Linked DNA regions of Homo sapiens. The protein of the gene in region 1 interacts with the protein of each later gene in a pairwise test. Each region holds a gene or a part of one and is shown in the gene's direction. Other genes may lie near its edges. The genes, in order: ZNF471, CARD14 and PHF20L1.

Region 1 (4,221 bases):
CTGGGAGGGTGGTGCACCCCAACTCCACGGGCACAGAAGTTCCTGCACTAGGGATTCTCTCGGACCTTGCCCTACATGTCTCTTCATCTGGCTATTTGTATCCTTTAAAATATCTTTTATAATAAACCAGTAAACATAAGTGTTTCCTTGAGTTCTGTGAGCTGCTCTAGCAAACTAATGGAACCCAAGGAGCCGGCTGTGGGAGCCCCAATTTATAGCACATCTCTCTGAAACACAGGTACAACAATCTGGAGTTTGGAATTGGCATGGGAAGTGGGGGACAGTCTTTTGGGACTGAGCTGTCTAACCTGTAGGATCTGATGTTTTCCAGGTAGCGTCAGAATTGAATTGGAGTAGCGGTCACCTGGCTGGTGTCTGCTGCAGACAGGTTTTTTTGACATGTTAAGACATTATAAGAGACAATAGAAAAAATGTATACGATACAACCTTCTCTGAGTTATATTTCTCCATAGCCCTTTTTACTGTTCATCAGACTGTTTATCTAACTCATGAATTTGTGGCTTGTCTCTCTCCGCTTCAAAGTAAATTACATAATAAGAGGACAGGGATTTTTTTTTCTCTGCTGTATCCCCCTGAATTGCTTTTCCTTATTTGTCTCACCTTCCAATACTAATTCTACAGTTCTCCTAGTCAGGGCTAGTCCCCTAAAACGGGGACCATTTCCATTTTGTTAAGGGGCTGAACGCGGTTCAAGCCTAGCAGATTGGTTCCAAAAACGTCGTGTTATTCACTGCCTCTGATCAGTGACATTCCCATTTGCAGCTGAAAGAGGTATTAATTCGCCAGAGTCACAACACGGTCGGGGTTCCTCGTCGCTGTCTTATTCCAAAATAAGCTTAACACAGAAAGATAATGACACTCCCACGGACTGGCACAGAAGGCCGCGCTCCGAATGACATCGCGATCACAGAGGCACAGACAGCGTCACAAAGCCCCACGCGTACTCACACCGAAGGCTCAGCCGTCGCGCGTTTCCCTCCCAGGCCCCAGGAACTAGTAACTAGGGACGCTTCTGGTCTCTAGGCGAGGAGAGGGGGAGAGCGCAATCTTTGCGCCTGCGCACACTCCTGCTCTTACCCGCCGGAACCCTGGGCCACGCCCGGCTCGCGTAATCACGCACTGCGCAGGCACCGCCCGCTCTGCTCTAAGGTCCCTCTCACTCCTTCAGCAGCCCGAGGACAATCCCCTCAACACTAGGCCACGCCTTGTCTCCGCCCCTCTCGTCCGACCCCTGGAGAGAGGCTGGCGCCTGCGCGATGGGGGGTTCCAGCGTCGACTCACGGAGTCCTTCGGATGAGAGCGTCTGGGTGCCAGACGAGGCCGGGGGTTTGTTTTGGGTGGTTTGGGAGTCCGAGCTCGAGGGCTGGGCCAGGAAGGGCAGGCGAGGCGGGCGGCTCCGACGCGGGTCGCGAAGGCCCAGCCGCGTCCTCTGTCCCCAGGACGACTACATTTCCCAGAGGCCAGCGGGGCGCGCGTACTCGAGTCTGCGGGGCGGAGGCCGCGGCTCGGGGCTGCTGGGCGTTCGGGGCGGCTTGGGGCGGCGGGACCACTGGAGTGAGCTGTGGGAGAGATGGGGGTGTGCCTGTGTGTAAAAGATCTGTCAGAGTGTGAGGCTCCGTGAGAGGGTGTGGTTTCTGTGTGTGTGTGTGTGTGTGTGTGACAGACCGAGAGTCCAGTGTGAGACCAGGGTATGTTCGTGTGTGACAGAGCGAGACGGGCCAGTGTGAGAGACCAGTGAGTGTGAGAGAGATAGGGATGTGCCTGCATTTGAAAGAGAGCGTGTGAAGCTCAGTGAGAGGTTGCGAGGTGTGTGGGTGTGTAAGTGTGTAACAGACCAGGTGTCCAGAGCGTGAGACCAGGATGTATTCGTGTGAGAGAGTGAGACGGGCTGGATGGAGTGTGAGAGACCAGTGAGTGTGAGAGATGGGCGTGTGCCTGTGTGTGAAAGGCCGGTCGGTCGGTGGGTGAGGCTCAATGAGAGGCCGGTGTGTGTTCGAGAGAGAGAAGAATCACCATGTATGCGAGACTAGACTGTGCAAGAACAGAGTGTGAGACTGTGGTATGTTAATGTGTGAAAGGGAGACCAGTGAGTGTGAGAAATGGGTGTTTTGGGTGAAAGACCCGTCAGTGTGTGAGGCCGTGTTATGTGTGTCTGACAGACTGAGAGAGACCAGAGTGTGAGACCAGGGTGTGTTCGTGTGTGAGAGACAACATAGCGTGAGACCAGTGAGTGTGAGAGAGATGAGCACGTGGCTGTGTGTGAAAGACCAGTCATTATGTGAGGCTCCTTGAGAGGCTGGTGTGTGTGTATGAGAGAGAGAAAGAGACTAAACTGTGAGAGTCCAAAGAGTGAGACTAGGTTATGTTGTTATGAGTTTGTGAGAGAGAGGGAGGCGATCAAAGTATAGGACAAAGTTATGTTTCCTGGCTTACGACTTCTAAGATCCTTGGAATCTCCAAAGTATTAAGTGTCTTTTTGCATGCTAATGATTGGTGGGCTGGCAGCCTGTAGGTTGATCACGGTAAGGGATGGTCACAAGAACAATCTAGGCAGGATTAGAGGGTTGGGATTACCTGCCCCATCCCTCAATCTCCAGGGAAAGGAAAGGGAGCCACAGGTTAAACTGATCATCAGTGGTCAGTGATTTAACCAGTCATGCCTACATTATGAAGCTTCCATAAAAACCCAAAAGGACTGGGTTCATCAAACTTCCAGATAGCTGAACACTGGAGGTTCCTGTAGGATGAGCCCCTTCCTATATAACCTTGTCCTATGCATTTCTTCACCTGCATCCTTTGTAATATCCTTTATTACTACAAACGTGTTTCCCTAAGTTCTGTGAGCTGCCCTAGCAAATTAATTGAACGCAAGGAGGGGGTCATAGGAACCCCGATTTATAGCTAGTCAGAAGCACAAGTAAAACAACCTGGGGTTTGCAACTGGCATTGGAAGTGGGGAGCAATTTTGTAGGGCTGAGCCCTCAACCTGTGGGATCTTATGCTGTCTCCAGGTAGATAGTGTCAGAATTGGGTTGCCCTAGAGGTCACCCACCTGGTATTCACTGGGTTGCCCTAGAGGTCACCCACCTGGTATTCACTGAAGAACTTATTGCTTGCCTGGTGTGTGTGTGTGTGTGTGTGTGTGTGTGTGTGTGTGTGTAGATCCCCACACATCTGGTCTTAGAACTGTTTTGTGTTGTGTGAGTGGAGTAGGAGAAACAGTTTGTTTTTCCTCTTTGTCACCTGAGTGTGTTATCAGGGACTGGATTGTGAGAATCCAGAGTGTGAGACCAGGGTATATCAATGTGTGAGAGAAATAGATGTGCCTGTGTGAAAGATGAACAAGTATGAGGCTCCCTGGAGTCTGAGAAAGATCATGTGTGTGTCTGAGTAAAAGCAAGAGACTAGACTGAGAGTTCAGTGATTGGGAGAGACTGGGGTATGTTGGTGTGAGTGTGTGAGAGACCAATGGGTATGTGAGAGACTAGAGTATGTCTCTGTCTGGACTGGTAGGTTGTGAGAGGGTGTATCACAGTATGAAAAAGATTGGAGTGAGAGTGACCAGTATGTATTTTGTGTGCATGAGATAAAGCAGTTGGAATATGAGAGATCAGAGTGTGTTTGTGTATCTGTGTGAGACACTGGAGCATTTGAGTAACTGAGGCCTCTTTGAAAGATACCATTGAATGTGTATGTATGAGAGACCATCATGTTTATATGTGTGAAAGAGGGAGAGAAAGACTAGTGATGTGGTTGTGTGAGAGACCAAAATGGGTGAGAAAGAAACTATGTGAACCATGGTGTGTTATCCAAAAGGCTTTACAAATATAACCTCTGTGAGGTTGTGAAGCATGCATGTGTGAGTGAGACAGAGATAAGGGACAGTGAGCTGTGTGTGTGAGAGAAGTAAGATTGGGGGTATGTGTGAAGGTGTTGGTGAATCACCACGTGTGCTTATATTCATGTCCTCAGGCAATGGAAATGTGACTGTGTATATGTGCTTGTTTTGGGGTGCTTGTGATTGTGTCCTCCGTGTGACCATGAAACCTGTGTTAGTGTTTGTATGTCACCCTGTATACCCATAATTGTGGCCCTGTATGACTGCTGTGTATGGAGAGACTACTTGGAAGATTGATAGGATTGGATTCTTTATGAGTGTGGCTGTTTGGAATTGTGTGTTGCCGGGATAGGAAATGTGGA
Region 2 (3,645 bases), on another chromosome or scaffold:
AGATGGTTGAATCCGCATGGTAGATATGTGGATATTTGTTATTTGCAGGATTTTTTAATATGCTGAAAACAGTGCACAGTTTTAAAACATTTTAAAATTATTTAGATGGATTAATGGGCTAATGGCCTCATGTTGATGCCAGAGAGGGGCTCAGGCAGGGGCACAGTGGGGTACACAGCTCATCTCTCGCTGGGATGGGAGGCTGGGCAGGTGACGGCTGAGGACCTCCAACAGCTCTTAGAGTCTGCACTAGCCAGCATGTCCCCTGAAGAGCAGGTGTTCCGGGCTGTAACGGCGACCTGCTTCGTGTATTCTGTCCAGACAGACCTGGGCTTGGGACATCAGCCCTGGTGGTGGCCCCAGATCAGCTGCAGCTCAGCCCTTTCGGGGACCTGTCCACCCTCTGTCTGCCTCGCCATCTTTGTAAGCCCACACCCCCCGCAGCCGAGCCGTGCTGGCCGTTACTACCCTGAAGTGTCTTCTGCGAGGCACTTGTGCCCAGTGTCACTCCCCAGCACATTTCCCTCATGTGGAGTCCTCTGCGCAGTCCTCTGTGTCACTGTCCTGGGCCGCTGCAAACAAGGGACCACCTGCTGCGTAGTTGAAAACAATGGGAACTTTTTTTTTTGTTTTTTTAGACAGAGTCTTGCTCTGTTGCCCAGGCTGGAGTGCAGTGGCACGATCTCGGCTCTAGAGAAGCCGACAGTCTTGCTTCTAATGAAAATTACCTTTCATAAAGAACTTATAAAGCAGCATTTCCAAAGTGCAGCACCCCTACTGTTATTTGTTTGTTTGTTTGTTTGTTTGTGTGTTTGTTTACCGGGACAGGGTCTCCCTCTGTCACCCAGGCTGGAGTGCAGTGGCACAATCTCAGCTCACCACAACCTCTGTATCCCAGGCTCAAGTGATCCTCCTGCCTCAGCCTCCTAAGTAGCTGGGATTGCAGGTGCATACCACCATGCCTGACTAATTTTTGTATTTTTAGTAGAGACAGGGTTTCACCATATTTGCCAGGCTGGTCTCGAACTCTTAGGCTTGAGCAATCCTTCCCCCTTCGCCTCTCAAAGTGCTGGGATTATAGGCGTGAGCCAATACGCCTAGCCTACTACCATTATTTTAGATGAATTTCTAAAAAAAAAAAAAAGTATTTATTTACTTTAATTTTTTAGAAAAAGCTGTAACTGACACAACAAAGTGTGATTTAGTGACTTTATTGCTTAGGATTGGGGTAGAGCAGGTGGGGCCGTGGCACTCAACCTTACACAGAGGGAGAAACCAGAATGGCAAATGGCCACTGGAATGCTTCCTCTGCCGTAAACATCTCAAGACTGTGGGTTCTGACTGGCAAAGAGTGCGCCTTGCTAATTTTACGATGGAGTTGATTTTAAAACGGTGTCACCCTGGCTATCCTGGGGTCCTGCTTACCTGACAACTCCACCCCCATGGCCACCCCTCCTAGGGTCCTCCCAGCGCCCAGCCATGGGGGAACTGTGCCGCAGGGACTCCGCACTCACGGCACTGGACGAGGAGACACTGTGGGAGATGATGGAGAGCCACCGCCACAGGATCGTACGCTGCATCTGCCCCAGCCGCCTCACCCCCTACCTGCGCCAGGCCAAGGTGCTGTGCCAGCTGGACGAGGAGGAGGTGCTGCACAGCCCCCGGCTCACCAACAGCGCCATGCGGGCCGGTGAGCGCAGCTCCCTCTTCCCCACCTCTTCCAGCTTCCCGTGGCCCACATGGCTCCACTGTCTGCCTCTGTCTTCAGGGGGTCTCTTCTCGTCCTGTCTCTTATAAAAACACTTGCTGTTGCCTTTAGGGCCCACCTGGATAACCAGGATGATCTGATCTTGAAATCATTAACTTATATCTGCAAAGGCCCTTTTCCCAAAAAAGGTCATCTGGACAGGTTCCAGGTGGATGTGTCTTTGAAGGGGAACCACCATTCACACCACTACAGCTGTCTTTGGAGTCCATTCTGATGGTCTGACTAGTGTTTATTCATTAAAAAATGGGGATGGTAATGGCTTTACTGTATACGGTTGTTAGGAGAAGCAAATGAGTTACTGTTTATAAAACACTCACTGCAAAGCTGGGGCCATAGAAAACAGGCAGTAGGTGGTAGCTGTCAACATGATAATGTTCATGCATGTTGGCGTACGAACCCCAAACACAGGAGAGATTGATGCACGCTGGTCATTCTGGCTGAGAGAGATGGGCTCTGGGCCCTGGGCGTGGAAGGCCCCGAGGCTCTCTGGGACCTGTCACCCGCAGCCCCGGGGTGCCACTCTGCTTTCTGTGCGCAGCTCCAAAGCTGACAGCACCGTGGTGGGACCCTGCGTCTGCATCACCCACCAGCTTGCCAGGGAGGTGCTTGCAAGCAGGGACCCACCTCCTCACCCCGTCCCGGTCCCCCCGCACTCGCCAGAGCACTGGGGTTGCAGTAGTTGCTCGATACATGCCAGCTTTGCCCTTCTCGAGTCTGACTGAGGTCATGGGGGTAAAGGGAGCCTGTGAGAGCAGTGAGGGCGCGTCCCACCCAGCAGAACCCAGAAAACCGCTTTCACCTCCCGATTCTTACATGTGCGGGGGGTTTCCCAGCCCCAGGCCTCTCCCCCGTGGGGAAGCCAGCCAGGGAGCCCAGCCCCCTTGGTAGCTGGGTTCTGCCCAGACAGACGGTTCTGCCTCCCAAGGGCACTTGCTGGATTTGCTGAAGACTCGAGGGAAGAACGGGGCCATCGCCTTCCTGGAGAGCCTGAAGTTCCACAACCCTGACGTCTACACCCTGGTCACCGGGCTGCAGCCTGATGTTGACTTCAGTAACTTTAGCGGTGAGAGCTCCGACTTTGACGGTTTGGCAGGCACTTCTAGGAACCTCAGGCTCCTGGTAACCCCAGGTGCCCCGCTTACTTGCCGATTTGCCCTACTCCCCCTTCCCTCCAGGCTGCAGTTCCTGTCCCAGCCCCAGCACTCTGAGGGTGAGGAACCCCCTCACTGTATTGGGGTTGGATAGGATAAGGAGCCCCTGGGCCTTGACTCTGAAGGGTCGGTCCTTAGTTACCCAGTGCCAAAAGGAGACCCCTGAGCGGTAGGGTGGGGAGAATCTGCTTGGAGAGACACAAGCAAAGGGCAAGGGAGTGTCTCCTGGAGTCCGCCTTTAACCTTGCGGCTTTGCTGGAGGGGCCAGAACGGCCCAGCCTCAGCTCTTAGGAGGCGACAGAGCGGCCCCGGCCAGAGGGTACAGGGCCTTGGCAGGGCCGCGGAGCCTTCTGTGCACTGCTCACCATTTTCCTTCAGGGAGTAATTCTAGGCTTCCCTGGAGGAGCTGTTGAAAGATTTAGGTATTGAAAGGAGCAGGAGCAGGACTCACACGACCCAAAACAGTGGAGAATAGACCATTTTCCCTGTGTTCCAGCACGGTGTGTGTTTATGTTCTTTAGAGTTCTAGTACGCGGATTCGTATTCTTTTTTTATCTTTTTCTCAGGATAACGTTAAAATGAGTTAGCACTGAGTGCATTTCAGCTACCGAGGAGGGTCATTAAGTCTGAACAGTGGGGTCTCACGGGGAAGGTCAGAGTGGGTAACCCTCGTGCCAAAATCGGGAGTCACGCTGTTTATTCAACCAAAAGACCAAGTCTGCTTGA
Region 3 (4,224 bases), on another chromosome or scaffold:
GTTCATCATAATCTGTCTAGAACCTGGATGGTAGAGCAGCTATCATCTCAAGCAGTGCTTTACACTGTGCCAGAGACAGAAACTTTGGTGAGCTGGCATTAAAAATTACCAACTGGCCATGACAAATCTCACTTCTAATTACATTTTATCAGCCAAAGCAAATCAAATAGCCATACATAATTCTAAGGAGGGTGGAAAGTATAATCCTGTCATGTCCTAAGGAAGATGCTACAAGTATTTGGTGTTCTGAACTAATGCAACCATGATGAGAAATTTCTCAAACATGGAAAGAGAGTTGAGATGCTGGGCAACCAAAAAACAAGATAACAAATATCCACTAGAGACTGTCTTATTTATATCTTTTCTATAACAAATATCCACTAGAGACTGTCTTATTTATATCTTTTCTATGTATCACCATGCTCAGTCTAGCTCAGTAGCTATTAGTGACTTAGTAGATGCTGAATGAATGTTTGTTGAATAAAAAAAGAATGATTGTTTAATTTACCAAATCTTACTATAACTGAAGCTTAAAGAGAGTTACTTTGCTATTTTAACTCCACACTATGAAGCAAGATAAATATAAGTGACATTTGTATGCAACGTTGCACTTGAAAACCAGAGTGGTACAGTGGAAACCAAGAGAAAAAAGATGTTTCATTTCAATATTATTTTCAATGTGTTCACTTATTGGTTTCTCCCCACAGCAAGGATACTGTCTCCTGTGCTTAGTAAAGTTTGGGAGGGTAGGTATTCGATAAAAGCAGTTCTGCTATCATTAGCTGTGTAGTCTTGGGGAAGTGATATCAATGTAGCCATAGGTTAAGGTTATTCAGCTGTGCCTGAGCACGCGCGTACACACATCTTAGTAATATTCGTCTTTGTATTGTAAAGATCTCCAAGACTGGAAAGCAATACAATTGTAATACAGTTGTACAGTTGTGATTGTCATGTGACATATTTACAGCCTAGTGTCTATCACAAAGCATCCATTCAAGGGAGGTTTATTGATTTTGTAGTAGTAACCATGCTCTATTCTTGATGTGGAGTGGGATGGATATCTAAGAAAGCATGTAATGCATTTGAAAAAGTTTGCCAAGGGTCCTGGGTAAAGGGGTTTTGGTGACGTGGTTCCCAACGAATCAAGAATAATAAACAATGCCCTTCGTCCTCAAATCTCAAAGGTCAAATACTTCACAACTACCAATAGGCACCAAGAGCTCGCGTTCTTTCCTCCAGTAACCAGAGCCCCGCCCGCTAGCGGTCCGTCAACGACCGCAAAGCCCCGCCTCCTACGGCGGCCCGCCAATCGGCTGCGCGGCCCGGGCCCAACCCTCGTGAGTCACGTGACAAGGCCAGGCCCGCTTCCGGCACGTCGCGGGCGGCTGACGTCGCCGGGGCCCGGCGTCGCGTCAGGGCTGGCCGGCGGCGGAGGCGGCGGCGGCGGCGGCGATGGCAGCGGACCCTGAGCGAGCTTGAGGGCTCGGACCCAGCTCCCTCCCGCGAAACCTTGGGCGGATCCGGCGCTGCGGCCCCAGCTCGCTCCGCTCCTGCTCCCTCCCCGGCCGCTGCCTGGGCGGAGGCAGAGGCAGAGGCCCGGGCTGGCCGCCCTGCTCGTGCCCCAGCTCGGCCCCGGACGGCCCGGCTGCTGTGCAGAGAGGAGGCCGAGTCGGTAAGAGGCGGCGGCGGCTGAGCCGGCAGGCCGCCTGGCCCCCGCCGGGCCGCCCGGGACGCCCCCATTCTGGTGTCTCTCTTTCCGGCCCGCTCCCCTCCCGCCTCCCTCCCCGTAACTCGCCGGCCCTATTGTCTGGGCGCCGCAGCTCCCTCTTCCCCTCCCTTCCTTACCCCCCTGCGGAGGGCCGGATGGCTGTCAAACCTGGAGGCTTCTCCAGCTCCCTGCCAGCCCTGTCAGCCTTTCCTGCCTGTCTCGTGCCACCCCCTCTCTGTCTGGCCTCACCTCCTCACCTTTTTTGGCCTGGCGGTCATTCTCTGACCATTGCTTTACATTGTCGGTCTCTATGTCTTCTTGCTCATTTCTTCTTCCCTCTAACTTGTCATCTCCGAAAACTTCCACTGTCCTATTTCTTGCCATTCTTTGCTCCTTTCCTTACTGTTTTTACTCCTCTCCGTGCTTTCTGCCTTGTTTTTGCTTCAAGTTTTACTCCCAGTAGACTGTCTTACTTTATGAAAGTTCCTTAATTCAAATCCCTCTTCATCCTTCCCTCTTCGAACCTAAGACAAAGGAAAATCTTGTTTTTTTTCTGGTACTTCATCCCTAAGTGTCACTGGGGGATTATACTCATTCAATCCATCACTTAATTATGGGCTCTAAGTTTGATTCTAGATGTTAGTGTACCTTGTGAACTATCCCTTACTGAATTCTTCCTGTGACAGACAGCAGAAAAGGTTGATTCGATTTCTACACAAACATTTAAGTAACTGCCTTACGTGTTGCGCACTGACAAGACCTCTATTAAAAATATTCATACATTTGTTCTTTTGCACCAGCTACACCCTGGGCAAGCTCCCTGTTAACTTTTTAATGCTCTAATATTTGCTTATACCATAGCAGGAGGATACCCACTCTCCCCCTCCAACCATGGGTATTTGAGTTCGCATATTTTCATGGCCAGTATTGATGCTATTTTTTCCCTTACCTATCAGACTCTTTCAAAGAGAAAAGAGGGAGCAGTTGGAATTTTATGTTTGTTGTTCTATTTTGTCTATTATGAATTGTGACAAAACCATTATAAAAGATGACAAGTGTGTGTGTTTCTTTTTTTCTTTTTAAACTGTAGGGAACATAGTCATTAGTGATCTCAAATACCGAAAGACATTTTACGGATCTCTCCTCGCCCCTGATAACAATCAATTTACATTCTTAATTATGAGTTATGTTTTGATTAGGTTATCTCAAAATGTATTCATATTCCTCACATACCCATTAGTGAAAAAGAGGCCACCTCAAGTGTGCTCGGTGGCCACTGTGGCCCAAAATATAGTACTTTGCATGTGAATGACCTAGGGATACATAGGTACTCCTTTGCAGTTTTTGTTCTAGCATTACAACCACTTTTATTATCAATGTGGACACTGTCTAAATTGAAATATAGTAGAAATACTCAGTTAACAAAAGCATGTTATTATTGCTTGTTGAATGTAAAGTATAAGAAAGCAGTCTCTTTTGTAATACTGTATGTTAAATTAAAATTATTGAATTATGTGCTACCAAGGTGGGAGATCATGGGTAATGAAAAATCCTAATCCCAAGAGGAATTAGTGGTATCTTCACTGGCAGAGGAGTGTGCCTACTGTTTCCTCCATCTTTGTGTGCTGTAGGGCCTTATCTAGTGTTTTGTATTATGAGGCACTCAACAAATATTTGTTGAAATTAAAAATTGATTTTGTTCTCAAGAATTTCAGTAGTCCTATTCCAGAACACTCAGCTGTCTTAATTTTTCAAAGGCAGGAAAGCATTTTCAGCTCTCCCCGTGGAGAATTTTCTTGGGTATCTGGAAGCTCAAATGTAAAGCATTTTTAGCTATTAACAATTTTTAACAGTCCATTTACTCATTCTTTTTAGATAGTTTTCTTTGTTCTTTTTCTTAAATCATTATCAAGATTGCCTGCAGATTGCACAGAACTTTATATAGAGATGTTGGTAATACTCCTTCAAATTTCTTAACAATTTGGCAAGTATTTCATATTCTCATGTATTGTTTTAGAAATTCTGTTTAATTTTAATTTGACCTGTTCCCTTATACTCTACTTCCTATGCATTTTCTGCATTGGAATCTAACTTTTTTCTTTCTCTTGAGGTAGTGAAAAGAGAATACTGAAGAATAGGATCTCAAGATGAGTAAAAAGCCCCCAAATCGCCCTGGAATCACTTTTGAGATTGGTGCTCGTTTGGAGGCACTGGACTACTTACAAAAATGGTATGGAAAATATAGAACTTTCACCTAAATATCACAATATCTGTAGCCTTACATATGTTAATTAAAACAGTAAATTCCACTGATGGTAGCAGAAACATCAGTGTATTCACATTTCGATTACACATATATGTTGTTTTTTAGTTTTCCTACTCTTTAGGCTTTTTAGGTTTAGCATTTAAAAACTATTTTTAGTCAACTGACTAAATTATTTAGAACAATCATTTTTGGTGTTTGAGAAATGAAAATAATTGTCTAGAGTATGCGGTTTATGTATACCTCATGTATA

The links.
Region 2: the proteins of ZNF471 (region 1) and CARD14 interact in a two-hybrid assay, tested with the Homo sapiens proteins (one large-scale study listed by BioGRID).
Region 3: the proteins of ZNF471 (region 1) and PHF20L1 interact in a two-hybrid assay, tested with the Homo sapiens proteins (one large-scale study listed by BioGRID).

The regions. Positions count from the first base shown.
Region 1 is NC_000019.10:56,506,574-56,510,794, forward strand, and holds the start of ZNF471 (zinc finger protein 471), read left to right. Parts: upstream 1-1,281; 5' UTR 1,282-1,347; exon of another isoform or gene 1,348-4,221. UniProt on the Homo sapiens protein: May be involved in transcriptional regulation.
Region 2 is NC_000017.11:80,179,960-80,183,604, forward strand, and holds part of CARD14 (caspase recruitment domain-containing protein 14), read left to right. Parts: intron 1-1,459; 5' UTR 1,460-1,479; coding exon 1,480-1,690; intron 1,691-2,693; coding exon 2,694-2,831; intron 2,832-3,645. UniProt on the Homo sapiens protein: Acts as a scaffolding protein that can activate the inflammatory transcription factor NF-kappa-B and p38/JNK MAP kinase signaling pathways.
Region 3 is NC_000008.11:132,773,974-132,778,197, forward strand, and holds the start of PHF20L1 (PHD finger protein 20-like protein 1), read left to right. Parts: upstream 1-1,414; 5' UTR 1,415-1,672; intron 1,673-1,965; exon of another isoform or gene 1,966-2,026; intron 2,027-3,818; 5' UTR 3,819-3,855; coding exon 3,856-3,938; intron 3,939-4,224.